Linked DNA regions of Homo sapiens. The protein of the gene in region 3 interacts with the protein of the main gene of each other region in a pairwise test. Each region holds a gene or a part of one and is shown on either strand. Other genes may lie near its edges. The genes, in order: RXRB, PPP3R2, TFCP2, PLCB1, IRAK1BP1, ESR2 and NPEPL1.

Evidence for each region.
Region 1: the proteins of TFCP2 (region 3) and RXRB interact in binary tests that used the Homo sapiens proteins (3 or more experiments, as listed by UniProt).
Region 2: the proteins of TFCP2 (region 3) and PPP3R2 interact in binary tests that used the Homo sapiens proteins (3 or more experiments, as listed by UniProt).
Region 4: the proteins of TFCP2 (region 3) and PLCB1 interact in binary tests that used the Homo sapiens proteins (3 or more experiments, as listed by UniProt).
Region 5: the proteins of TFCP2 (region 3) and IRAK1BP1 interact in binary tests that used the Homo sapiens proteins (3 or more experiments, as listed by UniProt).
Region 6: the proteins of TFCP2 (region 3) and ESR2 interact in binary tests that used the Homo sapiens proteins (3 or more experiments, as listed by UniProt).
Region 7: the proteins of TFCP2 (region 3) and NPEPL1 interact in binary tests that used the Homo sapiens proteins (3 or more experiments, as listed by UniProt).

What each region holds. Positions count from the first base shown.
Region 1 is NC_000006.12:33,194,833-33,197,895, reverse strand, and holds part of RXRB (retinoic acid receptor RXR-beta), read left to right. Parts: coding exon 1-134; intron 135-1,289; coding exon 1,290-1,462; intron 1,463-1,859; coding exon 1,860-1,989; intron 1,990-2,193; coding exon 2,194-2,326; intron 2,327-2,429; coding exon of another isoform or gene 2,430-2,441; coding exon 2,442-2,533; intron 2,534-2,845; coding exon 2,846-2,951; intron 2,952-3,063. UniProt on the Homo sapiens protein: Receptor for retinoic acid. Retinoic acid receptors bind as heterodimers to their target response elements in response to their ligands, all-trans or 9-cis retinoic acid, and regulate gene expression in various biological processes.
Region 2 is NC_000009.12:101,592,170-101,596,360, reverse strand, and holds the start of PPP3R2 (calcineurin subunit B type 2), read left to right. Parts: upstream 1-1,391; 5' UTR 1,392-1,439; coding exon 1,440-1,952; 3' UTR 1,953-4,191. UniProt on the Homo sapiens protein: Regulatory subunit of calcineurin, a calcium-dependent, calmodulin stimulated protein phosphatase. Confers calcium sensitivity.
Region 3 is NC_000012.12:51,096,284-51,100,547, forward strand, and holds part of TFCP2 (alpha-globin transcription factor CP2), read right to left. Parts: intron 3,497-4,264; coding exon 3,372-3,496; intron 2,636-3,371; coding exon 2,493-2,635; intron 1-2,492.
Region 4 is NC_000020.11:8,733,393-8,737,666, reverse strand, and holds part of PLCB1 (1-phosphatidylinositol 4,5-bisphosphate phosphodiesterase beta-1), read right to left. Parts: intron 640-4,274; coding exon 475-639; intron 1-474.
Region 5 is NC_000006.12:78,891,204-78,895,477, forward strand, and holds part of IRAK1BP1 (interleukin-1 receptor-associated kinase 1-binding protein 1), read left to right. Parts: intron 1-4,274. UniProt on the Homo sapiens protein: Component of the IRAK1-dependent TNFRSF1A signaling pathway that leads to NF-kappa-B activation and is required for cell survival. Acts by enhancing RELA transcriptional activity.
Region 6 is NC_000014.9:64,276,871-64,281,144, reverse strand, and holds part of ESR2 (estrogen receptor beta), read left to right. Parts: intron 1-991; coding exon 992-1,164; intron 1,165-4,274.
Region 7 is NC_000020.11:58,702,331-58,706,604, forward strand, and holds part of NPEPL1 (probable aminopeptidase NPEPL1), read left to right. Parts: intron 1-3,167; exon of another isoform or gene 3,168-3,239; intron 3,240-4,274. UniProt on the Homo sapiens protein: Probably catalyzes the removal of unsubstituted N-terminal amino acids from various peptides.

The DNA.
Region 1 (3,063 bases), on a different chromosome or scaffold from region 3:
CAAACGCACCATCCGCAAAGACCTTACATACTCTTGCCGGGACAACAAAGACTGCACAGTGGACAAGCGCCAGCGGAACCGCTGTCAGTACTGCCGCTATCAGAAGTGCCTGGCCACTGGCATGAAGAGGGAGGGTAAGGACCCGCCCTGCCCAGGCGTCTTAGACCACATGCCCTTCTCCCTTATCCCACTCAGACTGTGTACCTCTCTGGAAGGGTGGACTGCTCTCTCTCCTCTAGAGGGCGATATTTGATTTCTCTCTCCCTTCGCAGCTCTCCTCCCTGTTACCCTGTTCTGGCCCTTGAGTTTCCTTCTTAATGGTTAGGCCTCTGTGGCCTGCACATATGACCCCTCCCTAGACTGATCCTAGGATAGGATAACTTTTCCTTAGCCATGATGGGCTGTCTCCCCATTTCTAACCTGAGTGGTTCCTCCTCTGATTCCATGGACCTTCTCTGGTCTCTGTCTCCTGTTATCTGTGATCTTTCCTCTAACTCCTGGGACTGGGCACTCTTAAGCTTACAGACTTTACTGAAGACCTCAGGGCTTCCCTTCCTTCTTCTGTGTCTCCATCTTATCTTCTTAAGTCAGATTCCTAGGATTCTGAGAGACACTTTAGAGCATATCTTGGTCAAAACACCCACTTTAGAGAAGATGAGCCTGAGGCTTGGCTTTCCCAAGGTCATGCAACAAAGGAGTGGCAGGCAGGTTTGGGATCAGAACCCACATCTTCAAAGACCTAGGCCAGTGCTCCTTTCACTGCCTATTTGTTGAGTCAGAAGAGCACAAGATTTGCACTCAGACACACTTAGAGTCAGTTGTATGACCTGCCATGTATTATATGAATTTAAGCAAACTAATCTCTTTGAACCCCGAGTTCTTCATCTTAAAAATGAGAATAAATGCTTCCAGCATCATTATGATAATTGAGTGAATGGTAAAATGTGCTTAGCATGTTTCTTGGCATATTTTATTTAAAAAAATTTTTTTTTTCAATCAGCTTTCTCAGGTTGAATCTTGGCATGTTTTTTTTAACCATGTAGTAGGCTCTCCATTTAAATTCCTCCCTAATTCTTTTACCTACCTCACCCTTCCCGACTGACTTACCTGCCCTTTTATAACCCTTCCTTCAGGGCTGCCCCCAGTCCACCCTTTCTAGTGACTTCCCCAATTCCTATAAATATCTCCCAAGGGCCATGAGATCCTGATGAGGCCGTAAGGATATTTGTGGAACCCCTTCATGGCTGGCTGCTGACTTTCCATTTTTTCTCTCCCCCTTCCCCCTGCAGCGGTACAGGAGGAGCGTCAGCGGGGAAAGGACAAGGATGGGGATGGGGAGGGGGCTGGGGGAGCCCCCGAGGAGATGCCTGTGGACAGGATCCTGGAGGCAGAGCTTGCTGTGGAACAGAAGAGTGACCAGGGCGTTGAGGGTCCTGGGGGAACCGGGGGTAGCGGCAGCAGCGTGAGTGTTGGGGTCAATCCACTCTCCTTCGTGATGGGGGTTGGGGGAGGCAGTCTAGGTCTGTTCTACATCCCCTCCCCCTCCTTTCCCCTCATAACCTTCCTAACACTACTTGGGACTGGAGGTGCTGCCAAACAAGGTCTTTCAAACATCTGAGGTGGATGTGATAGCTCCTTCTGTCTCCACTCCCCAAACAACCCACTGGCAGAACCATAGGCATGTCCCAAATAAATAATTGTTTGCACTAATGCCAGAAGAGAAGACTCACTTACAGGGATTGGTTTGGATGGGGCTCACAGGAAGACTATATGTAAGGAGGGGGTGTCAAAAGCCTCTTACAAGGGGGCTCCCAGCATATCTCAAAATCTTCCATAACTCTTACCCCCGTCCCCTGCAGCCAAATGACCCTGTGACTAACATCTGTCAGGCAGCTGACAAACAGCTATTCACGCTTGTTGAGTGGGCGAAGAGGATCCCACACTTTTCCTCCTTGCCTCTGGATGATCAGGTCATATTGCTGCGGGCAGGTCAGTGACCTTGGATCCCTTTGACTTCTTGACATTTGACCCCTCTTTGACTTCCCGATCTTTAGTGACCCCAGTGGCCTTACCTTGCGTACCCAGGGAGCCAAACTTGCTGACCTCGCCACCTCTTTTCTCCTTCTCTTCCACTGATGTGCTTTGAATCCCTTGGCCTGATTTCTGGCTCCTGACCCTTGCTGCCCCACCCAGGCTGGAATGAACTCCTCATTGCCTCCTTCTCACACCGATCCATTGATGTTCGAGATGGCATCCTCCTTGCCACAGGTCTTCACGTGCACCGCAACTCAGCCCATTCAGCAGGAGTAGGAGCCATCTTTGATCGGTCAGTGGCCCTCGGCTAGGCTGGCATGTAGATAGAGGGGGTGGGGCTATAGGCTGGTCCGTGTCCAAGGCTGGCTGAGCTGTGACCTTTGAGTGACCTGCAGGTCCCTCTCCAGGGTGCTGACAGAGCTAGTGTCCAAAATGCGTGACATGAGGATGGACAAGACAGAGCTTGGCTGCCTGAGGGCAATCATTCTGTTTAATCCAGGTAAGAGGAGGATTACCTTTGTCTCTCAAGGCCAAGGCAACCTTGGAGCCTCCTCTTCTCCGAGACTCCTAAGTTACCCAGCTATCCCCCTCAGTAAGACCCTCAACCTGGAAATCTCCCAACTGGCCGAGGAAAAACCCACATCCACGGATCCATCCCACAAACCCAGTGGGCCCTGCTTCCCTTGCCAGGCCTCTGGTAAAGGGCAAGCAAGTGCAGCCCAAAAGGGGCATCCTGTGGCTCACATCTGCATGGCCATCCTGATTTGGTTTGTCTTCATTTCTCTTCCTCCTCTCTTCCCTGCCATCCCAGATGCCAAGGGCCTCTCCAACCCTAGTGAGGTGGAGGTCCTGCGGGAGAAAGTGTATGCATCACTGGAGACCTACTGCAAACAGAAGTACCCTGAGCAGCAGGGACGGTGAGATGGGGCTGGGGGGCACTGAGGCTCCCTTGGGGGTGGGGAGTGCTATGAGGATGTGTTCAGGGCCCGTGTGCTTCCAGCTCTCAATCCCCTTCTCCCACCTCCACCC
Region 2 (4,191 bases), on a different chromosome or scaffold from region 3:
GAAACAAAAAAACATTCCAATATAACAGTCTAATTGGGAAAGGGGGTTTCATTTGTGTAATGCCCATAATCAGCTTTAAAACATATCCATGGATTATCATTTGTTTATAGAGGAAAGTAAAATGGCCAGACTTAATGATAAGGTGATCAGTGGCTTAGTTTTGCTAGTTCCAGCATGGTTATCTTTAGACTGATATTTTGGCTGAACTATAGAACACAGAACTTGCCAACATTTTTTAAAGCGAAGGAGTGTTTGCATCTTTCAGTTTGATGTAGTGGCCTGAGGTTCCCCCAAGTCCCTTTGAACTGTTTGCTCTTGAACCACATTTGTTTCTTATGCATTTGGAGTAATTGATGCGCTCCGAAAGGAAGAAGGAATAAGAGGGAGCATGTGAGATTAGTCTTCAACAGAAAGAACAAATCTAGTTGAAACAAAAGGAGAAAAGTGAGATCATCCAGAGGCGACTGTCACTCTCAACACACACAAAAGGCTTCTTTGGGCACATTGCAGACCTTCCCCCAAGGTATTCTGCAGAATAGCCGCCAGGCACCAACAACAAAGATGTGACTCGGGCATGAGATGATGGATAAGAGGGAACAGAGTAACAGAGGTTGTGTTCTTGAGACCTGTGTCATCTTGAAAAACGCCCTGAATTCAGCATTGTTTATATTCCTCGGGAATATGTTAGTGCCTGTAGGTGATCCATGTAAGAAATTCTGCGCGGTATCTGCCTGGTCTCTTACAAACACTCTGAATCCTACGTCCTGAAAAAGGTACAGAAGGATGTCAATCCCGGCTTCCCCTCCCAGGGAATCGTGGAAAACATACTATATCAATGCCTTGATGTGTCACCTTGTTTCATCCTTACACTAGGTCTGTAAAGCAAGTATACAGTGTCCTTGGTTGCAGTTCAGTCATTCGGCGTATATTTATTAAGCACATATTGCCTGTGAAGCACTGTGCTTCTGGGATACTGCAGCGAATAACACAGGTGCGATCCCTTCTCCTTTGGGGTTTACTTTCTCAGAGAAAAAAAAAAAAGAAATAAGTAGATAAAATAATTGCCAGGGAAATTGGGGTTATCATGGAAAGGTACAAGGAGTTTGAGAGAAGGAAAAAGAGAAGGGGCAGCCCAGCTTTCCACCTCTGCCTCTCCCGGGCACCCCCAGGCTCCATTCTCTCCTCCCTATACTCCTGCCCAGACAGCACCCACCTCCCCTTCCGCCCCCTTTTCCCTCCTTCTTTCCCTCCTCTCTCCGCTCCCTCTCTGACCTGCCGCCCCTCCCTCCGCTCCCCTGCCCTTTTGCTCGACCAGGGCCCCCGGGAGCCCTCTACCCCCACCCCATGGCCCAACCGTCCGGGCACGAGCCCCGCCCGAGCTCACCGCCCCTGCTCCCCTCTCCGACCCTTTGAGCCGTGGCCGTTGCCAGATGTCCACAATGGGAAACGAGGCCAGTTACCCGGCGGAGATGTGCTCCCACTTTGACAATGATGAAATTAAAAGGCTGGGCAGGAGGTTTAAGAAGTTGGACTTGGACAAATCAGGGTCTCTGAGCGTGGAGGAGTTCATGTCCCTGCCGGAGCTGCGCCACAACCCGTTGGTGCGGCGAGTGATCGACGTCTTCGACACCGACGGTGATGGAGAAGTGGACTTCAAGGAATTCATCCTGGGGACCTCCCAGTTCAGCGTCAAGGGCGACGAGGAGCAGAAGTTGAGGTTTGCGTTCAGCATTTACGACATGGATAAAGATGGCTACATTTCCAACGGGGAGCTCTTCCAGGTGCTGAAGATGATGGTGGGCAACAACCTGACGGACTGGCAGCTCCAGCAGCTGGTCGACAAAACCATCATCATCCTGGACAAGGATGGCGATGGGAAGATATCCTTTGAGGAATTCAGTGCTGTGGTCAGAGACCTGGAGATCCACAAGAAGCTGGTCCTCATCGTATGAGCCTTTTTCTTACAAGCACCACCCAACAACTTCTGCTTTCTTCCCTATCTCTTTCAAGATTTGCTCAAGACGTCCAACTGTCTCTCTGACTTATCTGGAAGTATTTCTTTTTGTGAAGCCATATGTCCTAACAGGAGCTTCATCACCAACTCAGTGCTATTAATTCTCCTTCTCTGAATGACTCAGGGTACCCTATAGGGGGAAGAGCAAGTCAAATGAGCATAGTGGGGAAAGAAAAGGAAATGGCTTTTATAAACATCTTTTACTTTGTTTTGATTCAAAGACCAAACTAGAACTTTAAAAGTTCAAAAATAAGAAAGTATACATTTTTGCTGTTATTTCTCATCATTTTGTATATGGGAGGAAATTTATAATTTGCATGGGTGTTAGGTGAACTGTTTTCATTTGCTTGTGTTCAGATATCTTGCCAGATTGTTAACTTCCTATTGTAGCAACAGGGACAAATATATTTGTCTTTGCTGGGCATCTCGTAATCACTTTTCTTAGGGGACAGAATCCCATCTTTTCCTTCGGCAGATTGCAGCCCCATTCCCCACAATGCATCCAGAAATCGCTGTGCATGTTTGAGGGGTAGGAGTTCATTTGGCCTCCTCCTGACTTGTTGCTCCAGCTCCTGAACAGAAACTAGCTTCAGGGCTCTTATAGGAAATGCTAAGCCTGGACTAAGTGCCCAGCTCAGCCATCATCCTCATTAGCAGTGGGTTTCCAGGGTTGGCAGCCCACACCAGCATTAATTTCAATGAAGGGGACCTCCAGCTAAATAGGGCAAGCAAAGTGTTCTCCCAGAAAGTGCTCTCACCTCCGACACTGGTCCCTACCCCCAGGTGGAGACAATGAGACATTTAGTTAGTTGTCCTACGGAGGAGAGGCAGTAGAGTCAGGCTGCAGTGGAATCTCCCTAGGATGCCAAAGTGGCATTATGTCTGTTGCTCACAGATGCAGAGACTGACAATTGTGTCTCCACAGCAGAGGTGGATGCTAGCTACACCAGCTATGCTGATTTTGAAAATCAGATCTGAGGCCTAGAAGAGAAACTGAGAGCTCTCTCATTCCAGGAAGCCTTTTCCCTAGTGGAACATTCAGTGCAGAAGTCCTCACACACTAACAGATCTCCACCATTGGGTGAGCCGGAGCCTGTGGTTCCAGGGGAGATCCAGAATGCATGTGTCTCTTCCCACGCATTTATGTCATGTTGGTAGCTTTAGATCAGCCATGGTGAGAAAAGAACAAAAGCTTTTAGTTGTTTTTGTTTTGTTTTGGAGAATTTGTTTACCAGTAAATACATCACTGCCTGTACCCCAAATGTTACCAGCTCCCTGAGGTGTCCCACATACTATTGTGAGTTCTCAGAGCATGAACTGTCCTCAGAAGAGCAGGGCTAGGACTTGTCCCAGCATCTGTGCCTCCATACCAATCCTCTTTCTCACAGAGAACCACTTCCCATATAAGATGCTTAAGGCTCTCAAAACAGCAGAACAATGAAACATACTCTCCCTACACTTGCTTAGCCAAGAGATACCACTCAGGTAACTTTTTTCAGGACATGGAAGATCTGTTTCAAGGAGATTTACTGCTATTTTATTTGGAAGAAGCTGGCAACTGGTCTTGACCAAAATAGAAAAAAAAAAAAAAAGTCCACAAATTTAATCACTTGTAGGGAACCCATCTATCAAGGTACCCTACCATATACTTTTGTATTTAATAGATTACTTAGAAACCACAAAAATAGGAATCCTTACCCCTTCAATTCCTGTTCAACCCTAAAAACTGTGATAAACGCTCCCAACCCTGTGGTGATCAGGGTTATGTAATGTTCAAAGATTCAGACACACCTGGGTTTGGATTCAGTTGCAACTGGGTTGTTATCACACTCACTTCTTTTTAGCTGTGTGAGCATGAATAATTTACTTAGCCTCTCTGTGTCTTTCCACCTAATTAAAGAGGATCCACCCCAGGGTTATTTTGAGGATTCAAAAAGGCATGCAACACACCTGGAGCACAATTCCACTTTCATTCAACTAATTCCCTTCCCTTCCCCCTTCTTCCCCTTCTACAAGATCAATATGTAAAGGAGACATGAGGCTTACTGGTTGCTTTTGAACACTTACTTAGTTCTTAGCTACACCCACTCTAAAATTAACTGGACATTAGTGTACAGCCCATGTCCAAGCCCAGAGAGAAAACAATGGGAACAATTTCAAGGTCCTCACCACTCCTT
Region 3 (4,264 bases):
GGGTTAACCCCAAGACTCTCCAAGGAGCACACGGACACAAATATGTGCATACAGGAGAACTGACTTCCGTGTCTTCAACTCCCATATGTGCTCTTTCCTAAAACCTCTTTAATTTTCCTTCCCCACTTTCCCTTCTCAAACTCCCTTCTCCCAGGGATAAACTCCCTTCTCCCAAGATAAAGGCATGAGTTTCACCCTCCCAGGATCCTAATAAGGTGGCCCATGATGTGAAAGCTTCAGGTGGCAAAGTGGAATGGCGAAGGTGAACGCTAATAACTGAGCAATAGACCCTTTTATGAGCCACATGGTTTCTAACTCTTTCCTTTCACCAGAATTAAAGAGTAACCTAATCACAAATTGTCGTAAGACAGAGGATTCAAAATGATTTTTTGGTAATATCACTATGTAATTTCTGGTATATAATTCTGAAGTATAATCTAATGACATTGTCATTACAAAATTCCATCCATTCCTATCAATTTATGGGAATCAAGTCCCTCAGCATTTATATCTAGAGGAAAAAAACAGAATGGAATTGATGCTGAAATCCTGTGTCATTCTAGCAATCAATAGGCAGTATTCAGCTACAAAGGAAATAATTATGTGCAAGGGTACAGGTAGGGAACGAAACAATTTCATCGAACTCATTCATAGATATACCTGTAATAATTTTTTCTTAATTTTTTTTTTTTTTTCTGAGACAGAGTTTTGCTCTTGTTGCCCAGGCTGGAGCGCAATGCCCCCATCTCGGCTCACGCAACCTCCGCCTCCTGGGTTCAAGGGATTCTCCTGCCTCAGCCTCCTGAGTAGGTGGGATTATAGGCACGTGCCACCACACCCGGCTAATTTTGTATTTTAGTAGAGACAGGGTTTCTCTATGTTGGTCAAACTCCTGACCTCAGGTGATCTGCTTGCCTCGGCCTCCCAAAGTGCTGGGATTACAGGTGTGAGCCACTGTGCCTGGCCTTCTTTTTTTCTTTTTTTGGATGAAGTCTCGCTCTGTCGCCTAGGCTGGAGTGCGGTGGCGCAATCTTGGCTCACCGCAACCTCTGCCTCTCGGGTTCAAGCAGTTCTCTGCCTCAGCCTCCCAAGTAGCTGGGATTATAGGCACCTGCCATCATGCCCAGCTAATTTTTGTATTTTTAGTAGAGATGGGGTTTCACCATCTTGGACACGATGGTCTTGAACTTCTGACCTTGTGATCCACCCGTCTCAGCCTCCCAAAGTGCTGGGTTTACAGGCATGAGCCATTGCGCCTGGGCAGCCTTCTTAATCTTTAATAATTACTTATTAAAACATGTAGCATATTTACATTATTTTAATCAATTGTATAATTATGATAATTCCATTATAATAATTTTTAAATTTTTATTTAAAAACTTTATTTCAAACAAATATAGTAGGATAATCAATAAAAGATGTTTGTGCATAAAAATATGTTATGGTAAGATGGCCAGGCGTGGTGGTTCACATCTGTAATCCCAGCACTTCGGGAGGCTGAGGCGGGTTGATCACTTGAGGCCAGGAGTTCGAGACCAGACTGGCCACATGGTGAAACCCAGCCTCTACTAAAAATACAAAAATTAGCCAGGCATGGTGGTGGGTGCCTGTAATACCAGCTACTTGGGAGGCTGAGGCAGGAGAATTGCTTGAACCTAGGAGGCGGGGTTGCAGTGAGCCGAGATCACACCACCGCACAACAGCCTGGGCGACAGAGTGAGACTCTGTCTCAAAAAAAAAAAGTTACAGTAAGATAAAATTCACCGGGGGAAGTAAATGAAAATAAGAGTTCAAGGAAACAGAGGAATAGTATAAGAATTCTAACTGTTAAAGAAAAGCACAATCATGTATTTTTTTTTAATGGATGGTGGTGGTATTAAATCATTTTTGTATTAAGGTTACATGGGATGCAATTAGAATAATGATGTAACCATTTCACTTAAAAATGTCATTATATATGCCCAGAAATGACATCTTTTACAACTATTTAAACTTTAACAAAAAATTTTAAGTCAACCTAAAAATGTGCATGGGAATATGTGGTTTTTAAAATATTTTAGGACCAGGCGCAGTGGCTCACATCTGGAATCCCACCACTTTGGGAGGCCGAGGCGGGTGGATCACTTGAGGCCAGGAGTTTGAGACCAACCTGGCCAACATGGCAAAACCCCATCTCTACTAAAAATACAAAAATTAGCCAGGCGTGGTGGCGCACGCCTGTAATTCCCACTATTCGGGAAGCTGAGACAGGAGAATCACTTGAATCCAGGAGGAGGAGGTCGCAGTGACCTGAGATTGGGCCACTGCACTCCGGCCTGGGCAACAGAGAGAGACTGTTTCAAAAAAAAAAAAAATTAGGAGGAAAGCAAGCAAAAAAGTATGAAACCCTCTGATCTAGAAAACAGAACACTCTGCCCCAGGAGAACTGCTCTTGCTCCATGCGCTGACAAATTAATCATCATCTGGTAATTCAACTGTACTGAAAAATCTACCTCATCACTGATGAGCACATGAATTCCTGTTGGCCCCTGCTTGTAAATCTGGCTGATCTGGCAAGGGGAAATGCTGAAAAGCTGAGCAATTTTTTCTGTCAATTCAACAGCTGTTAGTTCTTCTAGATAGATAGCATGGTAAACTGCAAAAGGGAGAGAGCAACAGCAGTCAGTACAAAGTTTGTCCACTCTTACAGGTAACTTGATCACTAGGAATGCCCACTTTTCTGAAGGACTCAGAAATCACACTGCCTAAGTTCAAATCCTGGCTCAACCACTTGCAGCTGTGTGACCTAGGGCAAGTTATTTAACATTCCTAGGCCTGATTTTTCTTGCATAAATACCGGAGATAACAGTAAAATCCTCCGCAAAGAGGAGATATTAGTTGTAAATATTAAAGCATATAAAAAGTGTTAAGAATAGTACCTGGCTGGGTGTAGTGGTTTACACCTATAGTCCCAGCAATTTGGGAGGCTGAGGCAGGGAGATCGCTTGAGCCCAGGAGTTCAAGACCAGCCTGGGCAACATAGGGAGATCCCATCTCTACAATAAATAAAACAATTAGGCAAATGAGTAGCTTTAGTTCTAGCTACTCGGTAGGCTGAGGGGAGAGAATCACTTGAGCCCAGGTGGTCAAGGCTGCAATGAGTCATGATTGTGCCACTGTACTTCAGCCTGGGTAACTGAGTGAGACTCTGTCTCAAAAAAAAAAAAAAAGAATGGCACCTGCCATGTATTAGGAACTTAATAAATGCTAGTGATTATTGTTACTTCTAGCAAATACTAAATCTGCTGTTTGATAGTTTCCCATCACACATGCCCATAAGTTATCTCTTCACCTTTCTTCATATCTGTCCTAGTGTGTCCAGAACAACCTACCGAAGAAAGTACCATTTGAGTCTCCATCCTCATGCTTCTGCTGCTGTTGCTGCTGCTGTTGTTGCTGCTCCCTCAACTGCAGTGATTCCTGACAAACATAAATGGTTAACCTTGGACGCACCATCCTAAGGGGAGGAAAAAGGCTAATTAGTCTTACATTCTTTATGGTAAGCACAATAAAAAGAAGGGAGAAATTGTGTTTCTACATTAATCGTATAGAGCAGATGAAAATTGGAAGCTCATTGGCCAAATGCAATTAATTTGCTATGTTTTATTAGTTCCCCAGTAGTAGGGTTTTTTTTTTCCTTAAGTGGAATTAGTTCCAATATGAGACATCATATAAACCTCTGAACTTTTGGCTTTTCCTGAAGACTCAGATCTAGCAATCTTAGGCCTGCATTCTCACATGAAAACAATCAGCCGTTCTTCTTACATGATGCATATATTCTTCACTATACCCCAGTCTTGACTGCCATTCACTTACATTACCTGTATGTACTCTATAGTCATTTGAGTTTGTGGCCTTTGGTGTAAAAGTTAGAAATAGTCAAAATATAAAAGCCACCGTCTAATGGGTCAGGTTCAAGATATACTTTTTACTAAAAAATGCCAACACAGTAAACTAGATCATCTTATTTCTCTCATTACCTTCTCCTAACTAGCCTAAGTCCTTTCTCTGTTCTTCTTAGAGAAAGGTATTCAACTACCTCTTGATCTGATCATCTTACTCCTTCCAATTTCTAAACACCCTTTAGATAATATGCTTGAAAAAATGAAAGATCAATTATTTTTCCACAAGTCATCAACCCCTGATTTCACTTCCTTCCTTAAAATTTTCCAAGATTCAACATCCCTTATGATGTAGACAAAAACAAATATGACCAGGCACGGTG
Region 4 (4,274 bases), on a different chromosome or scaffold from region 3:
GAGTGTGAAAGGTTTCAACTTTATTAGATAGAACCCAGACAAGATTGAATGACCAGCTCTCAGAGGCTAGAGATTTTGGGGAATTTAAATAATATTCCTTTTAAAGGAAATATGAATTTTCTTTATCTCAGCCACTATATTATTCCCTACTTCCACTCTACTTCTTTGAGTTATAATTAAAATGTATCATTTATCATTTGTACTATCAGATGATATGAGTTAAATGTATATGTTTTTATGGCCGTCCATTTGAGGCATACTAGAATGAATTGATTTACAATACAATTCTGAAAATCCAAACCAGTGATTAACAGAATTCTTGAAGGGTTTTCAGAATGGCTTTCAAAAGGTAATTGCTTTATAAGTGTGTAAATTTTCAAATTAAATAACAAATAATTCACCATTTCATTATTTTCTCAGTGTAAAACACCTGAAAAATGCAGTTATAACTCATATCAAGAACATGTGACCAACCTTTTTGAACACAATAGGTTCTTCTTCCCAGACAGGATTCACAGCATTTCCTTGGGATGTTTTGGTCTTAAATGCCTTCCTCCTTGTATCCACAGGCAAACCAAACATATCTACTTCCACGTAAGTCCCAACTTTCTTATCAGAAAGAAACTGACCTGAAATAATCTAGAAAATCAATAAATCAATCAATCCATAAGGAATTTTGATATGCAAATAACAAAGACATAAGAGAATACTTTAAAGAGCCACAAATGCTCTTCAGCAAATGTTGAATTATAAGCAAAATGGAATAGAAGCAAGAGTAGAAATATGATTTCCCTTTCACTTAATGGGTTATGATATGGTTTGGTTCTATGTCCTCACCCAAATCTCATGTTGAATTGTAATCCTCACATATTTGGGGAGGGTGATTGGATTATGGGAGTGGTTTCTCTCATGCTGTTCTCATGATAGTGAGTTCTCACAAGATCTGATGGTTTAATAAGTGTGTGGCAGTTCCCCCCTCACTCTCTCTCTTCTCCCTTCATGTGAGGTGTGCTTTGCTTCCCCTTCACTTTCCACCATAATTGTAAGTTTCATGAGGCCTCCTCAGCCATGCAGAACTGTGAGTCAATTAAACCTCTTTTCTTTATAAATTGCTCAGTTTCAGGTAGTTCTTTATAGCAGTGTGAAAATGGACAAACACAGGTTGGTAGAAGGATATTGAAAATGGTGAGGTTAGAAGTAGTCAATTAATAAGACACAGTATTGTAGGAGGAATAAATGAACAAGTATTCACTTTAAACCATCAAGATAAGTTTATCATTACCCCTAATCTCACAAGGTGTCACCATCTTTGTCTAGCTACAGAACTAATGGATATTATAGACTTAAAAGAGATTTTTAATATTACGTATTTATAAATGTCTTCCATGTCTGCCTCTGTTTCTATGCAAATTTTCAAAATCTGAACTATCCACCAGCTGTCATAAAGGTTAGCGGAGGCAAACAAGATGTGCTTCTGCTGTATACCAGGAAGGGGAAAGCAGGAAGCAAGTGCTGACAGAGCAAACCTGGTGAATCTGGGTTATGTGGTTACAAGAAAATTGCCTGCTGGTCAAGAACTTTCTGAGCTCCAGATTGTGAAAAGGGGACAGCATTATGGCTGGGCTCACAATCTGAGCTCAAGATTGTGAAAGGGGACAGAATTATGGCTGGGCCAGAAATCAGACAAAATGGTGGCATGAGAATAGCTATCAAAGGCTGAGTAAAGTCAAAGTCAGCTATATGCTGATGTTGTCAGAAATTCTGAGTAATTCAGAGAGAAAGTCATCAGGAAGGCTCTCTGAATTTGCCCTGGGACAACTCATTTCCCCTGTATGTTCTATTTGGCTTGAGTGCATGGGACCTGCTAGCAACAATCTCTTTGTTTAACTTGAGGTTCTATGTGAGAACTATGTCTATGAAATAAGCAAGCATTTCAAAACATGTTTGAAACTTCTAAGTTATGCAAGTCCTACTTGGAATTCAGATGCACAGAAGATGTTGTATGTTTAAGATGTTTGACCAAAGCAGAGTCCTAAACTAAATTCATGACACCAAAACCACAATGCTCTCGTCAGTAACATAGGACGGTAGAACATCATGTGAGCTCACAAGTCCATTCTGGCATTATAAAATCTATGCCAGAAGATGAAAACAAAGGCATAATTGGAAAGTTATGATCTGTATCTTGGCTCTAGCTATAATGTCAAAGGTAGGACTCTACTGCAGTGAGAACTGTCCATTCAGGGGAGACTGACAGCTCTGGAGCAGCGTCTCCATTCTGGACAGGAGCAGCAGGTTACACTTGTCTGGGGATCAACTATTTCCCCTTCACAACTCAATGTACTTTCCTGCCTCTGTGTCATTGTTTTATAATTGCTTACTGTCACAGTAGGATTTTCAAGACAAAAAAAGAAATAAGCAAACAAATACATTCAAAACAAGACGAATCTGCAAGCAAAGCAAAAATATTATTAATTCAACCGAACTATAACAACAATTGACAAGGATTCTAAAAGTAGCATTCTATCAGTACATGGAGCTTATGAGTTTATCTTTATCACACCTGACAGGAATTAAACAGCCTTTTCTGAAAATACTTTCCTAAAATAAACTCTAATTCTGCCAACTTGAACTCTTTATACATGTGGCTTGAAGTAATTTCAAAAGATATAATTATGAGACACTTCACTGAAATTTTATTCTTTAAACCCTTGATATAAAGTGACGAAAGTTTTAAGGTAAAAATGTGCTCAACTGCTTAGGGTAGAAAGAAATTAGTGAAGCTGTTATAGAAAGCTTTTTACATAGTTTTTCAAATGCCTTTGTTTAAGGTTAATCAAAAAATTACATTTATGTCCAGTAAAAAAATTTCTTAGTTCTATAGTTATTCAGTTAAACAGAAAACAGACAATATTTTTGAAAAGCTTTAACGATGAAGAATCCATGTAAAATGTATTCTAAAAAATTGATTTTCCTTTCATAGTATTAAAAATATTTTCTGGTAGCTAAAAAATTATATCTGATATAAAATCAATTTCAAAGACTAAAAAAATTTAGAATTGTTTAGGGTCAGATATACATATGTATGTGTATATATCTATGATTTTTATATATTTATGACATACATGTATATATACATATATATTTAATAAAGCAACTCTTTTATTTAATGATCATTAATATGTGTTTTAAAATCTCTGAATACTCTGGAAGATTTTCAAAAACCATTTAAAGTAATTTGAAAGCTTTTGTTTAACATTTGATAATTTATTGAGGGAATGTTCTGTCTCTAATTTTCTAAGAACCAAACGGGGAAAAAAAGACCGGAAAATCTCTCCAATATGGGCCACTAATTATCATGTAAATTTCATAGTAGGTTAGTTACACCAAAAAAGAGGTTTGCTTATGATGAGTCTCTCCAACTCATTTTATTGATTTAGAGTCAGATTTTTATCATTAAGAATAAAGTTCAGTCGCTTTATCTTATTCATGTGGCCTATGAAAACTTTTTTTTTTTTTTTTTTTTTTTTTGAGACAGAGTCTCGCTCTCTCGCTCTGTCGCCCAGGCTGGAGTGCAGTGGCGCGATCTGGGCTCTCTGCAAGCTCCACCTCCCAGGTTCACGCCATTCTCCTGTCTCAGCCTCTTGAGTAGCTGGCACTACAGGCGCCCGCCACCACGCCCGGCTAATTGTTTTTTTTTGTATTTTTTAGTAGAGACGGGGTTTCACCGTGTTAGCCAGGATGGTCTCGATCTCCTGACCTCGTGATCCACCTGCCTCGGCCTCCCAAAGTGCTGGGATTACAGGCGTGAGTCACTGCGCCCGACCCTACCAAAACTTTTATTATTATTATTATTATTATTATTATTATTATTATTATTATACTTTAAGTTTTAGGGTACATGCGCACAATGTGCAGGTTAGTTACATATGTATACATGTGCCATGCTGGTGTGCTGCACCCATTAACTCGTCATTTAGCATTAGGTGTATCTCCTAATGCTATCCCTCCCCGCTCCCCCCACCCCACAACAGTCCCCAGAGTGTGATGTTCCCCTTCCCGTGTGCATTCATAGATGGGAATTGAACAATGAGAACACACGGACCCCTTACGAAAACTTTTAATGTGTATTTGATCTTTAGAGAAAAAAAATGTAGGAAGAAAGTAGAATCTTTCCTAGTTACTAAATTTTTAATGACTAAGCCACTTCTTTATGCAATGTAGATAAATTCAACACTATTGTTAGGAACAATTTTGTGATGGGGTATACCTAC
Region 5 (4,274 bases), on a different chromosome or scaffold from region 3:
CAGGAATTCAATGAAGACTAGAAGAAAAGAAATGCAATCATAGTACACTATATTGTTCAGCTGTAAACAATCATAATAGTACAAACACTGACTGTTGATTTAATTTTAAAAAAAGGTTCTAAGTGATGACTTTAATGGTAGGTGAATGAATGGATGTGGGAAGGAGGGTTGGATTAAAATCCTAGCTTTGTGATTCCTATACCAGTACTCTTTCCACTTTTTATGTTATTTTCATGTTATAACCTTAGTGTTTAGAGGAATTTTTTTTTTTTTTTGAGACGAAGTCTCACTCTTGTCACCCAGGCTGGAGTGCAATGGCGTGATCTTGGCTCACTGCAACCTCCGTCTCCCAGGTTCAAGCGATTCTCCTGCCTCAGCCTCCTGAGTAGCTGGGATTACAGGCTCCTGCCACCACACCTGGCTAATTTTTGTAATTTTAGTAGAACCGGGTTTTCACCATGTTGGCCGGGCTGGTCTCGAACTCCTGGCCTCAGGCGATCCGCCTGCCTCTGCCTCCCAAAGTGTTGGGATTACAGGCGTGAGCCACCGTGCCCAGCCTAGAGGAATTTTTTAATCCTGGGGTATAATAGGTATTCAATACTGTGTATCAGGAAGCAAAAGTAGTAGTATAACTACTCATATAGTTTTCTCCCCCTTCTTTCCCTCTCCTTTTCCTTGCATGCCTGCTATGTGTTAAGCATTTTCCATATATTATTCCATCCAATCTTTTTTATTTATTTTTATTGTGAAATATTTTATACATATATAGGCATGAATATATAAGACTCATTCCGTTTTCAGACATCTGATCAATAGAGAATCTTTGAACATTAAGCCAAAATTGACTCACTAGTAGCCATCTATTAGTGTACCTCTGTAAGAAGAAACAAAACAAGGTAAATACTTCTTCCTTAAAATATATACTTGAAGTTCATTTTCATATTGATGCTACTTTTTTTTTCTTTTCCAGGGTAAGAACCCTGTTTGGCCATTTCTTATGTAACAAACTCTTTCTTTAGTTAGCCAGTTTCATTCAAAACCATCTATAGCTATATTGTTCTACTTATGATTTGGCCAGTCCAAACTAGAGAAAGTTGATTATCTCCCTTATTCTAGAATATTTATTTCTAATAACACATGCAAGACTGAATTAACTTTTTGGCATTTGCATCATATTGTTCCCTCAATTCAGCTTATAGTCATAATAATTATAAACAATAAAAGTGTCTTTCTCATGTGCTACCTTTAAATCATATTTTTTTCATCTTATACTTTGTTACTGCTATTTCAGTATGAACTGTGGGATTTTACATTTATTTATATGAAATTTTATCTTAATTCGGTTTACCTGTATTTCTAGTCTATAAAATAGCAGAGAAGTAAAGCTCATAATAAGGAGAAAAATCAATTCCAAACCAACTCAGGAGTGACACAGATGTTAGAATTAAAAGACATAGTCATTAAAAGTTATTTTGGCTGTAGTTCACATGCTCAAAAGTTAAGGAGGGATGTGCAAGATATTAAAAACAAAAAACAAATTGAATTTCCAAAGATGAAAACTACAGTGTATGAGATAATAAATACACTGAATAGGATTAACAGCAAATTAGACCTTACACAAGACGTGCTTAGTGAACCTGAAAATGTAGCAATAAAAAGTATCCATAATGAAACACAGAAAAGAAAGATGTAAAAACGAGTTAATAAAATGTAGGACAACATCAAATAGCCTATTATACATATAATTGAGGTCCCAATGCAGAGGAAAGTGGGGGACAAGAAAAATACTTGGAAAAATTATGACCCAAAAATATCCAAACTTTATGAGAATTATAAACCCATGGAGTCAAAAAGTTCAACTAACCCTAAGCACAAGAAATTGAAAAAAAAAATGCACCAGTACACATTATAATCACATTGCTCAAAACCAGTGATAAATCTTAAAACAGCCAGAGGAGGAGAAAAAAGACATATTATCTACAAAGGAACAAAGGTAAGACAACAGATTTCTTGTTGAAAGCAATGCAAGCAAGGAGACAGTTGTGCCACATCTTTAAAACTAAAAGGTGTATATATATGTGTGTATATATGTGTGTGTGTGTGTGTGTGTGTATATATATATATATATATATATATATATATATATCAACGAAGAGTTTCTATTAATATATCCAGCAAAAGTAGTGCTGAAAAACAAAGACCAATTAAAGACCTTTCCAGTAAGCTGAAATAATTCATTACCTGTAGACCTACACTATGAGAAATTTAAATGACATCATTTAAGCAGAAAAGAATGATGCCAGAAAGAAATAGGAATTTATACAAAGGACTGAAGAGTACTGAAAATGGTAACTACGTGGGTTTTTCTTAATATAAATCTCTTTAGAAATCTCTATATTTATATAAAAGATAACTGACTAGGCTGGGTGCAGTGGCTCACACCTGTAATCCCAGCACTTTGGGAGGCCGAGGTGGGTGGATCACCTGACGTCAGTTCAAAACCAGCCTGGCCAACATGGCGAAACCCTGTCTCTACTAAAAAATGCAGAAATCAGCCAGGCATGGTGGTCACGCCTGTAGTCCCAGCTACTCAGGAGGCTGAGGCAGGAGAATCGCTTGAACTCAGGAGGCGGAGGTTGCAGTGAGCTGAGATCACGTCACTGTACTCCAGCCTGGGCGACAGAGCAAGACTCTGTCTCAAAAAAAAAGATAACTGACTAAATAAATGATAATGATGAACTACAGGGATTATAACATATGTAAAAATAAATTATATAACAACAATAGCACAAAGGTCAAGAAGGGAAGAACAGAAGTACAGTGTTATAAACTTCTTATATGTGAAATGATATGCTAGCTCTTGATGGTAGATTGTAATAACTTAAATATGTATTCTGTAAATCCTAAAGCAAACACTAAAATAATGGAGTTACGGCTAATAAGTCAATGAAAGCTATGAAATAATATAATAAAAATATCAAAAAGAAAACAGAAAATGAGTAAAGGGGAAATAACAAGACCACAGGTTTAAATTTACCCATGTCAATAATCACGTTAAATGTAAATGGTCCACATACCTTCATTAAAATACAGATATTTTAAGTTAACTCCACTTACATGCTGCCTGAGAGAAGTGTACTTTAAATATGAAGACATATGTTGGTTAAAAGTAATGGGATGGAGAAAGATATGTCATGCTAACGTAAATGAAAAGAAAGCTGGAGTGGCTATAGTAATCAAAGTAGATTTCAGAGCAAAGACTATGAAAGATAAAGACAGTCATTTCATAATGATAAAAGTCAATTAATCAAGAGGACATACAGCACTAAATATTTATACATATAATAAAGCTTCAAAATACTTAAGGGAAAAATGATATAACTACAAGGAAAAATAAATAAGTCTACAACTTTTGTAGATTTCAATACCCCCCTTTTCAGTAGTTGATAAGACCATAGACAGAAAATCAGTAAGAATATAACAGATTTGAATCACACTGTCAACCAATTTGACCTACTTGACATATATAGAACACTCCAAAAACAGCAGCCTACACATTCCTTTCAAGTGCACATTGAACATTTGCCAAGGTAGACCATATTCTGTGTCATATAAAAGTATTTGGCCGGGCGCAGTGGCTCACACCTGTAATCCCAGCACTTTAGGAAGCTGAGGCGGGCAGATCACCTGAGGTCAGGAGTTCAAGACCAGCCTGGCCAACATGGTGAAACCCCGTCTCTACAAAAATACAAAAATTAGCTGGGCATGGTGGTGCACACCTGTAATCCCAGCTACTCAGCAGGCTAAGACAGGAGAATCGCTTGAACCCGGGAGGTAGAGGTTGCAGTGAGCCGAGATCGTGCCATTGCATTGCACTCCAGCCTGGGCAACTGAGCAAGACTCCATCTCAAAAAAAAAAAAAAAGTATTTGAATCATACAAAGTTCACTGACCACAGTGTAATTAAATTAAAAACCAGTAATAGAAGGGCCTCAGGAAAATCCCCCAAATATGCTGAATTTTAAAACATACTTTTCAGTAACCCATGTGTCAAAGAAGAAATTGAAAAGGAAACTAGAAAGTGTATAAGGAAGAAATCATGCCAATTCTATACAAATTTTTCCAGAAAACTGAAAAGGAAGAAATATTTCCTAGCTCATTCTTTGAGGTCAGAAGATAACCAGAAAAATACCATTACAAGCAAAGAAAATTACAGACCAATATCCATCATAAATGTGCAAAAATTATAAACTAAATTTTAGCCAAATTTAATGA
Region 6 (4,274 bases), on a different chromosome or scaffold from region 3:
TCTCTCTTCTCTTCTCTCTTCTTTTTTCTCTCTCCCTTTCTCTTCTCTTCCCCCTTTTTCTTGTCTCACATTCATCTCAAGGTAACTTAAAGTCCATTTGTTATTCCTCTTAAAGTTATTTTTATTTTATTTTTTTGAGATGGAGTCTCACTCTGTTGCCCAGGCTGGAGTGCAGTGGCACAGTCTTGGCTCACTGCAACCTCTGCCTCCCGGGTTCAAGCAATCTCCTGCTTCATCCTCCAAAGTAGCTGGGATTACAGGTGTGCACCACCATGTCTGGCTAATTTTTGTATTTTTAGTAGAGATAGGGTTTCACCTTGTTGGCCAAGCTGGTCTCGAACTTCTGGCCTCAGGTGATACGCCCACCTTGGCTCCCCAATGTGCTAGGATTACAGGCATGAACCATTGCGCCCAACCTGAAAGTTATTTTAAATCTAGACCTTTATCTGAAATTGCAGAGTGTGAGATGTTTGTTCTCCATTTAAATGGGAACTTCAAATGTCTGAAGGGCTGCTTAGCAATGCTGTTGGGAATGACTGATGTTTGGAAGTGGTTGAATGCCTTCACACCCATCCATGCAGCATTCGTGAACTCTAGTAACTACAGAAGACCAATGCATATCCTGCCTGTGGTTCAGACCTGTGGGTAAGATTTGATCTGGCCACTCCTTTCATTACACTTAGAGATGTAGCTCCCACCCCATGGCTATGACTGGTCTTCGGCAGTGACAAATGCTCATCAGCATCACGTGGATGGGCATAAACTCACCTACCCACTTTCAAACATTAGTCATTCCCCACAGCGTGGCTCTTTGTAGATATGATATCAGTATCAAAAGCTTTGCTGTATCAGATTTCCGGGAATATATTTACCAGGAACCCTGGAGGAAAAAGAGATTAAATTAGGCAATGTTCATGCTATTTTTTTTTCCTAGAAAGCCCTTCCTTTCCCTTTTATGCTCTGTTCAATGGATATTTTCTTTGCTCCCTAGAGAGACACTGAAAAGGAAGGTTAGTGGGAACCGTTGCGCCAGCCCTGTTACTGGTCCAGGTTCAAAGAGGGATGCTCACTTCTGCGCTGTCTGCAGCGATTACGCATCGGGATATCACTATGGAGTCTGGTCGTGTGAAGGATGTAAGGCCTTTTTTAAAAGAAGCATTCAAGGTACAAGAGAATTGTTAACTGCTTCTTTAGTTTCCTACTTTTGATTTCAAACAATTTTGCAGAGATGACTTGGCAGAAATGTCACTACTGGCCTGTTTGGCACACAAAGTATTTGATGAGCAGTTCAGAGGATCATGTGTGTTTGGAAGTGGGTTGGGTGGTGGGGTGGAATTGCAGATTTCTACCCCAGAACCCCAAGATTATACAGCCAACTCGAATGGGTCTTACCCCTCGTTCACCCACATGGGTGTTGGATAGAAGACATCGAGTTACAACCTTGTGAAGATGTCTCTTGGAAAAAATGTGCTCACAAGGAGTTGCAAAGATTGTTTCTTTCTTTTACTTAAATTTAATATATAGCATGCTTAACAGTCATGATGGTGGGCTGGCTCCTGAGGAAGAAAGAATAAACACATTTTTTGGAAATGGTCAGAAATCAGGAATTCAGCTACAGTGGACTTTGAGAATTGATCTAGACACATTTCTTCCCCTAGGCTAGGAGGGTCTCAGTTCACAATCCCCTTGTTTTCTGGGCTGTGTTTAGATTATTTCCCTAACTTTCTCTAAACGCCTTCTGGATTTTTTTTTTTAAATCAACTTGTTGATGAAAAGAATCAAACTCTGTAAAATATTTGAAGAGATTTATTCTGAGCCAAATATGAGTGACAAATGGCCTGTGACATAGCCCTCAGGAGATCTGAGAACATGTGCCCAAGGTGGTCAGGCCACAACTTGGTCTTATACATTTTAGGGAGACATAAGGCATTAATCAATGCATGTAAGATGTACATTGATTCAGCCTGAAAAGGCAGGACACCTGAAAGCAGGGGCTTCCAAGTCACAGGCAGTTCAAAGATTTTCTGATTGGCAATTGATTGAAAGAATTATTATCAGTAGGAAGCAATGATTGGGTTACAATAAGGGATTGTGGAGACCAAGGTTTTATCATGCAGATGAAGCCTCCAGGTAGCAGGCTTCAGAGAGAATAGATTGTAAATATTTCTTAGGGGTCTTAAAGGGTCTGTTCTATCAGTGATTCCAAAAGGGGAGGGAGGGTATAATGAACCATGTCTGTCTCCCTTGTTCCATCATGGCCTAAACTTATTTTTCAGGTTAACTTTGTAATGCCCTTGGCCAAGAGGAGGGACCCATTCAGATGGTTGAGGGGCCTTAGAATTTTATTTTTTGGTTTATAAACTTCAAGTTGTGCACCCCTGATTTCAAGGCTGGTCAGCTCATCTCCCTGCATGTGTCTTTGCTACACTCCTTCTCTCGTACCAGCCCTGATTTGCTGAAGTCACTTTCTTGCTTACTCTTGTTTTCTCTATTTGCCCCATAACCTGTCCCTCAACTGCTCCCTCCCAGGCAACACCCTATGTTTCCATCTGAAAGCTCCCTTCCTTTTTCTATCAAAGCCCCAATGCTTTGTTCTTTGCCAGTTAAGAAAAGCAACGTTGAGAGAATTCATAGTGTGTAAATGGCAAATAGCAATTTACTAAATTAACTCACCCATTGATAACTCTAAGAGGATGTTTTACCTTAAGCAGAGAAATACTGATAGAATCCAGGATATGGTGAGGAGTGAAATGTTGGTAGTCACCTTCCTACCTGTCCCCTGAAATTCACCCTGTATGAATGGCAGCCTCTTTGTCCTGGATTTTATAATTACTAGCTCTGCGACTTCACCTCCTAGCCTGTTTCCTCCTCTGTGAAATGGAGATACTCATAGGGATTTTCTAAAGATGAAATAAGGTTGATTATATGAAAACATATTCAGTGCTCAAATATTTTATTTGTGACAATCTTAACAGTAGATTATAAGGCCAAGTCCATTTCCTGGCTATATGATAAGAACAATATTGATTTTCTGAAATTCTGAACTGAATTCTTGATACGATGACTATTTTGTATCTTGCTGAGTTTCTAGGATTTTACCCCTTAAGAACGTTTGGACCTATTACTACTAACCATATCTTTTAAAAAGAGATCCTTCTTTTTTTTTTTTGCTTTTGGGGAAACATTGGTCTGCTTGAAACATCTTTGACCCCTGAGACTACAGCTAATAACAATTGAAAGTAAATTTCCTTTGCTTCTCTATGTTGTTTCTTCCTTCCTGCTGCATCAGACAGGAATGTCAAATTCTAAATGTGCAAAGAGGAAAGAGTTAAAGCTGTTACAGTTGTACAGTTGTAGTGCCTAAATGATCCTTTCTTTGCATGCTTCCTGTCTTTGATATAAGTGCATTACAGTAACTGAAAGTGGCCACTTATTTTTAAAATTGTCTCAAATAGGCCAGGATGGTACAGTATTGAGAAATTCCTTGCATGTAACTTTTTTTTTTTTTTTTTTTTTTTTGGAGATGGAGTCTCATTCTGTCACCCAGGCTGGAGTGCAGTGGCACAATCTCGGCTCACTGCAAGCTCTGCCTCCCAGATTCACACCATTCTCCTGCCTCAGACTCCCAAGTAGCTGGGATTACAGGAGCTGGCCACCACACCCTGCTAATTTTTTGTATTTTTAGTAGAGACAGGGTTTCGGCATGTTAGCCAGGATGGTCTCGATCTCCTGACCTTGTGATCCGCCCGCCTCGGCCTCCCAAAGTGCTGGGATTACAGGTGTGAGCCACCGCACCTGGCCCATTCTTATGTTTTTTATAATTTTAAACTTGTCTTGCTAACTTGATTTATAAGCTAATTGACCATATCTTAGTCATGTACCTGTCCCCTTCACTGTACAAATGCACTGGAAGCTGTGTTGTGCTTGCTTTTCCATTGATACTTTGTTGGCTTCTTCACACAATGAGTTGCCATCAGAGTGATAAGTGCTGTTGTTTCTCTACTGGGTTATGGAGCACAGAGGAAGGAGGACATAGGGAGAAGGACCTCATCACTTCATCTGGTCCAGATGACAGCATGGCTTATTTTTTGAGCTTATCCTTTACTTTTTGTTCTCTTTCCTATTGGTGTTCATTTAACAAATATTTATTGAGCATTGTACCAGGCTCTACGGATGCAGTGGTGAACAAGACAATAGATTATAGATTCCATGAGGGCAAGGATTTTTGTCCATTTTGTTCACTAGTGGCACTTACCAATTCCTTGAATATGATT
Region 7 (4,274 bases), on a different chromosome or scaffold from region 3:
GCCCCACCACTTGCTGCTGCCTTCCTGACACTGAGCCCTAGTGTCAGCTGCTGTTCAGGGTGGCGCTGGTGCAGCTCGCCGCGCTCTCTAGCACGCCTAGTTTATTTCATACCTGGAGAGGATGAGCAGTTCCCATCCCTCCTCTAAACCACAAAACTGTTTAGAACTAAGCAGAAAATGACACTAATCATAAAAAGGGTTTTTTGTTTTTTTTTAATAGAAAAAACATGCCTCCCTATGGGTCTCTTGGGGTAATAGATGGTGGAATGAATGTTTGTTTCTGGCTTTGGGTCTTAGCATCTACACGTTTGACAATGGTTTCATTTAAATTGATCTTCTTTACTAATGTATGTTCAGTAGGCAGAGTTGCCAGCTGTCTTCACTCATAGTTGGTCCAAGAATACTATCTGTTAACTTTGATTTTGAAGAGCTCCAATCTCGTGAGGCAACAGATACACAGATACTTAGGAAAAGTCTTTAATACGGTATCATTTGGCAGAGATTCTTAAAAATCCCATTTCACAGTAAATTCCAGCAATCACAACACCCACTGTGTGTTCAGTTCTTCAGGGTGGATTCTTGTGGCTTTCAGATGTCTGCAGAACAAAAGCATTTTGGACACAGTAACTCCAAGTGTTCACATGGAATGAGGGAAGTGAAGGAACGCAGGTTCCGCGTCTTCGTTTTGACCATCCCGCACTCTCGTGTTTTATTTTGGGTCCTCTGTTTCGACACCGGGAGGTAGGAAATCATGGGCCCTGGAGGCCCCGACTGTGCCCAGAGCCAGCCCACAGGATCTGACTGTCAGAGCGATTCTCAGAAGGAATGTGGGTAGTAGATTTTGTGTCGGGTCATTGCTAACGTCCATGTAATGTTACTTTCAGGATAAGTAACAACGATATGCGAATTTGAAGCTTTTGTTTGTGTGATTAAAACGCAACCGTAGCCACAGCAATTTTTTAAACTTCAATCAACAACAGATTTTCGGAGGAGGAATATGTTATTGCTGACTTTGTTCAGAGATACCGGCACACGGTGGTAATAAGCAAACTGACTTCTAGTCGGTTATGATTCCTAAATTCGCCACAGATAGTGCACCCCCTACTGCCTGCACCTGGTACTGGCTGCTCCCACCCTCGCACGCACCCTCAATACCCACGGTCACCCTGGAAGCCGCTACATTCTGGCTGGTAGAGTCGTGGACCCTCTTCTCCTTGGATCAGATGCTTGTTTTTGATGTCGGCTTGTTGTGGACCAATGTGAGAAGATGAGCTTCCTGGGAATTCATTCGTTTGCTTGTGGCACTAACTCTAGTCACTTAGGGAAAATATCGTTGCACCTGACTTCATCTCATGTGGCTGTGGGTAGACCTGTGCAGTTAGTCAGCTCCCGGCCTGGAAATTAACACAAAGGAAAAACCTGACCACACAGGCCTTCCCTAGAGGCCACAGCTGCACAGCCTTCAGGGAAGCTGTGGTCTGAGGGTGGCTGGTAGAACTGCCAGAGAGTAGGGCATTTTCCATGGCTCCAGATCACCTTCTGAAAATGCGACTATAGCCCCTGCCTATTCCCGGGGTCCACCTGGTCTGCAGACCCCATAATACCAGGAAGAGCTGGGTGTTCTGGCACCAGTGAAACAATACCTGGTTTTTTATTTTAAACCAGCCCATCTTCCCCGCTGCAGTTGGAACCGTTCTACGTGGATTTGGGATCAACCAGCAGGCCTTTCCTGAGCTGTTACTGTGTGGAGTGGGCGCTGAGGCTCCAGCCATTGATGCAAAGACCCCAATCCTGACCTGAAGGCGCTCACAATCTCTCCCCAACGGCCTGGTGTGAAACGCAGACGCAACGCAGCAGGCATTCTCCCCAGTGGCTGCCTGTAGAGCAAATGGTGCAGAAATGGTCACTCCTCAAAAAGCAAGCCGGCTGGAGCCAGCCCAGCTCCCAGTTTTGCAAGAAAAAAAAAATCACAGCTCCATTTTCAAAGATTTCAAGGGCAGCTCAAGACCAGCCTGGACTAGCAGGCCTCAAATGCATTACTGGAGACCCCTTTACGCTCTTAACAAGTACCGACCCCAAAGAGGCTTTTTGTATAACAATGTCTATTGATATTTACTCTACTGGAAATTAAAAGTGAGAAATTTATAACATGTATAATTCATTAAAAATAACATATAAATCCATTGCATGTTATCATAAATAATTTTATGAAGATAAGCATCTTCCAAAATGAAAAAATAATTTACTGAGAGAGTAGCATTGTTGTACATTTTCACAAATCCTGTCAGTGTCTGGCTTAATAGAAGACAGCTAGGGACCTTGCGTCTGCTTCCGATGTAGTCTATGGAAATGTGTTGTTTCAGTTGAACTGTATCAAGAAAATCTGGCCTCACGCATTTTATAGTTGAAACAGGGAAAAGGATTTTAGTACCTTTTTCAGCTAACTAACTATGAACATTCTTTGCTACTACACCAAAACTCAACAAGTGGTAGCTTCTTAAAGGCTGGTTATAACATGGAATCTGAAGCCTCATGAATAGACTTTTGGGCTCTGTGGCAGTTAAATCCGCTGTTCTCTCTCACTTTGAACATGTGGTTTTTCATGGAAAAATGAATGTTCACTTGAAAAATGTTGGTTCACAGAGTTCTGCAGAAATTCAAATTTTTGACACATTACATTATATAGTATCAAAAAATCACTTAATATCACCATCCATCTCATCAGAAAACTCATTATGAGGAAGTTGTCATGGTGATAGGAGAAAGTTTTTCAAAATTCTGATTTTTGCTTAAAAGCTCAAATGTATACCATTGGCAATAAATAATGTCAGCTGTTTCTGGAAGTAAGAGGCTCAGTTTGTTCCTTTTCTGGGAAATATCTGCCAGATACCTAAATCCAATTAAATGCCATTTGTCTGTCAGTTTTTCTTTCAAGTAAAGATGGTGTCGTGGCCAGAGTGGCTCATGGAGCTCAGAACTCCCCCAGCAATCACAGCTGAGCTTCTGCTCTGACCGACCACTGCCCGTCAGCAACAGCAGGAGTACATTATGAGTCACACGGAATATGGAAAATGTATTGTACCCAAGGGTTGAGAGTTTTAAAAATTAATTTTACTGCTTCAGCAAGGAAATTCTAACGTGAAATTGGCATTGGTTCATTTTCCCAGAGGGCACGGAAACGAATACAGTGGCTCCCGGACCTCTTTGGGACTGTGGCCTGATACTCCAGCACAGGGGGTGTAAGTGTCAGCCCCGTGAAAAAGGCAGAGACCGTCTTAAATCACTGCGAAAATGGTTTCTTCTATAAAAACAGAAACAACATATGGGGGCTGGTGAAACTTTGCACAATCAATCAGTTGAGCTGTATTTGCAAGCCCAGTCCTGGCTCCACCTGCAATTGGGAAGGAGCTGGCAGCTGTGACGGGGGAGACATGGTGTACAGTGAGCAGCCGTTTCCAGGCATTGCTGTGTGACCCATTTTGCACATGGTTTGATTCCAGATCGGAGGCCCTGTTTTTCCATTTAAACAATCCTGTGCTTTCTCAAACAGATTAGCTCAGAAGAGATGGCTTATTTTCAGTAGTACAAGATGGGTCATTTTCACTCAATTATAAAAGCAGCTCAATTTACATCTAAAAATACTTTGCACTAAAATTCAAAGCTTGTGTAATAAGATAAGGGTTCAAAAATGATTCAGTAAATTTCATACCCAAACCTTTACCTCTGAGGACCTGCTGTTAATTTAAAATATGAACTTGTGAATTTGATTTGGGAACCTGTAAAATGTAAAAATGTGTAACACTGTCAACCAGCGTATAGGAAACAGTGTGGACACTGCAGGAGAAGGGTGGCCCCTCTTTAGACCCAGGTTAACCAGGAGGTGTGAACTATTAACCAGGAGGTGTGAACTAGCAGGAGGGCAGAGGTGGCCCCTTCTTCTGGCGATAGACCTGGCAGTGACATGAAGGAGCGACAGGTGTCCTCACTGCTGGTGGTGTCAGTGGGGGTGGATGTGACTGATTTTGGCGAAGAGTTCACATCAACCCTCACCATCATTCAAGGTTGTGATGAGGGGCAGAGAATGCTGAGCCTAAGTCTCGTTAGGTGGTAAAGCCCTCTAAGTGCCAGGGAGAGGAAGCTAGGCCCTGTTCTGGGGGGCGACAGGTGGCCAGGGCAGGTTTGCATTGCGGCAGCAGCCCCTCAGGCTTCCTCCCTGCCATAAGCACACTAGGAATCTGCAATGGGTGCAGGAAGCACGCAAGCCCACCCAGGTC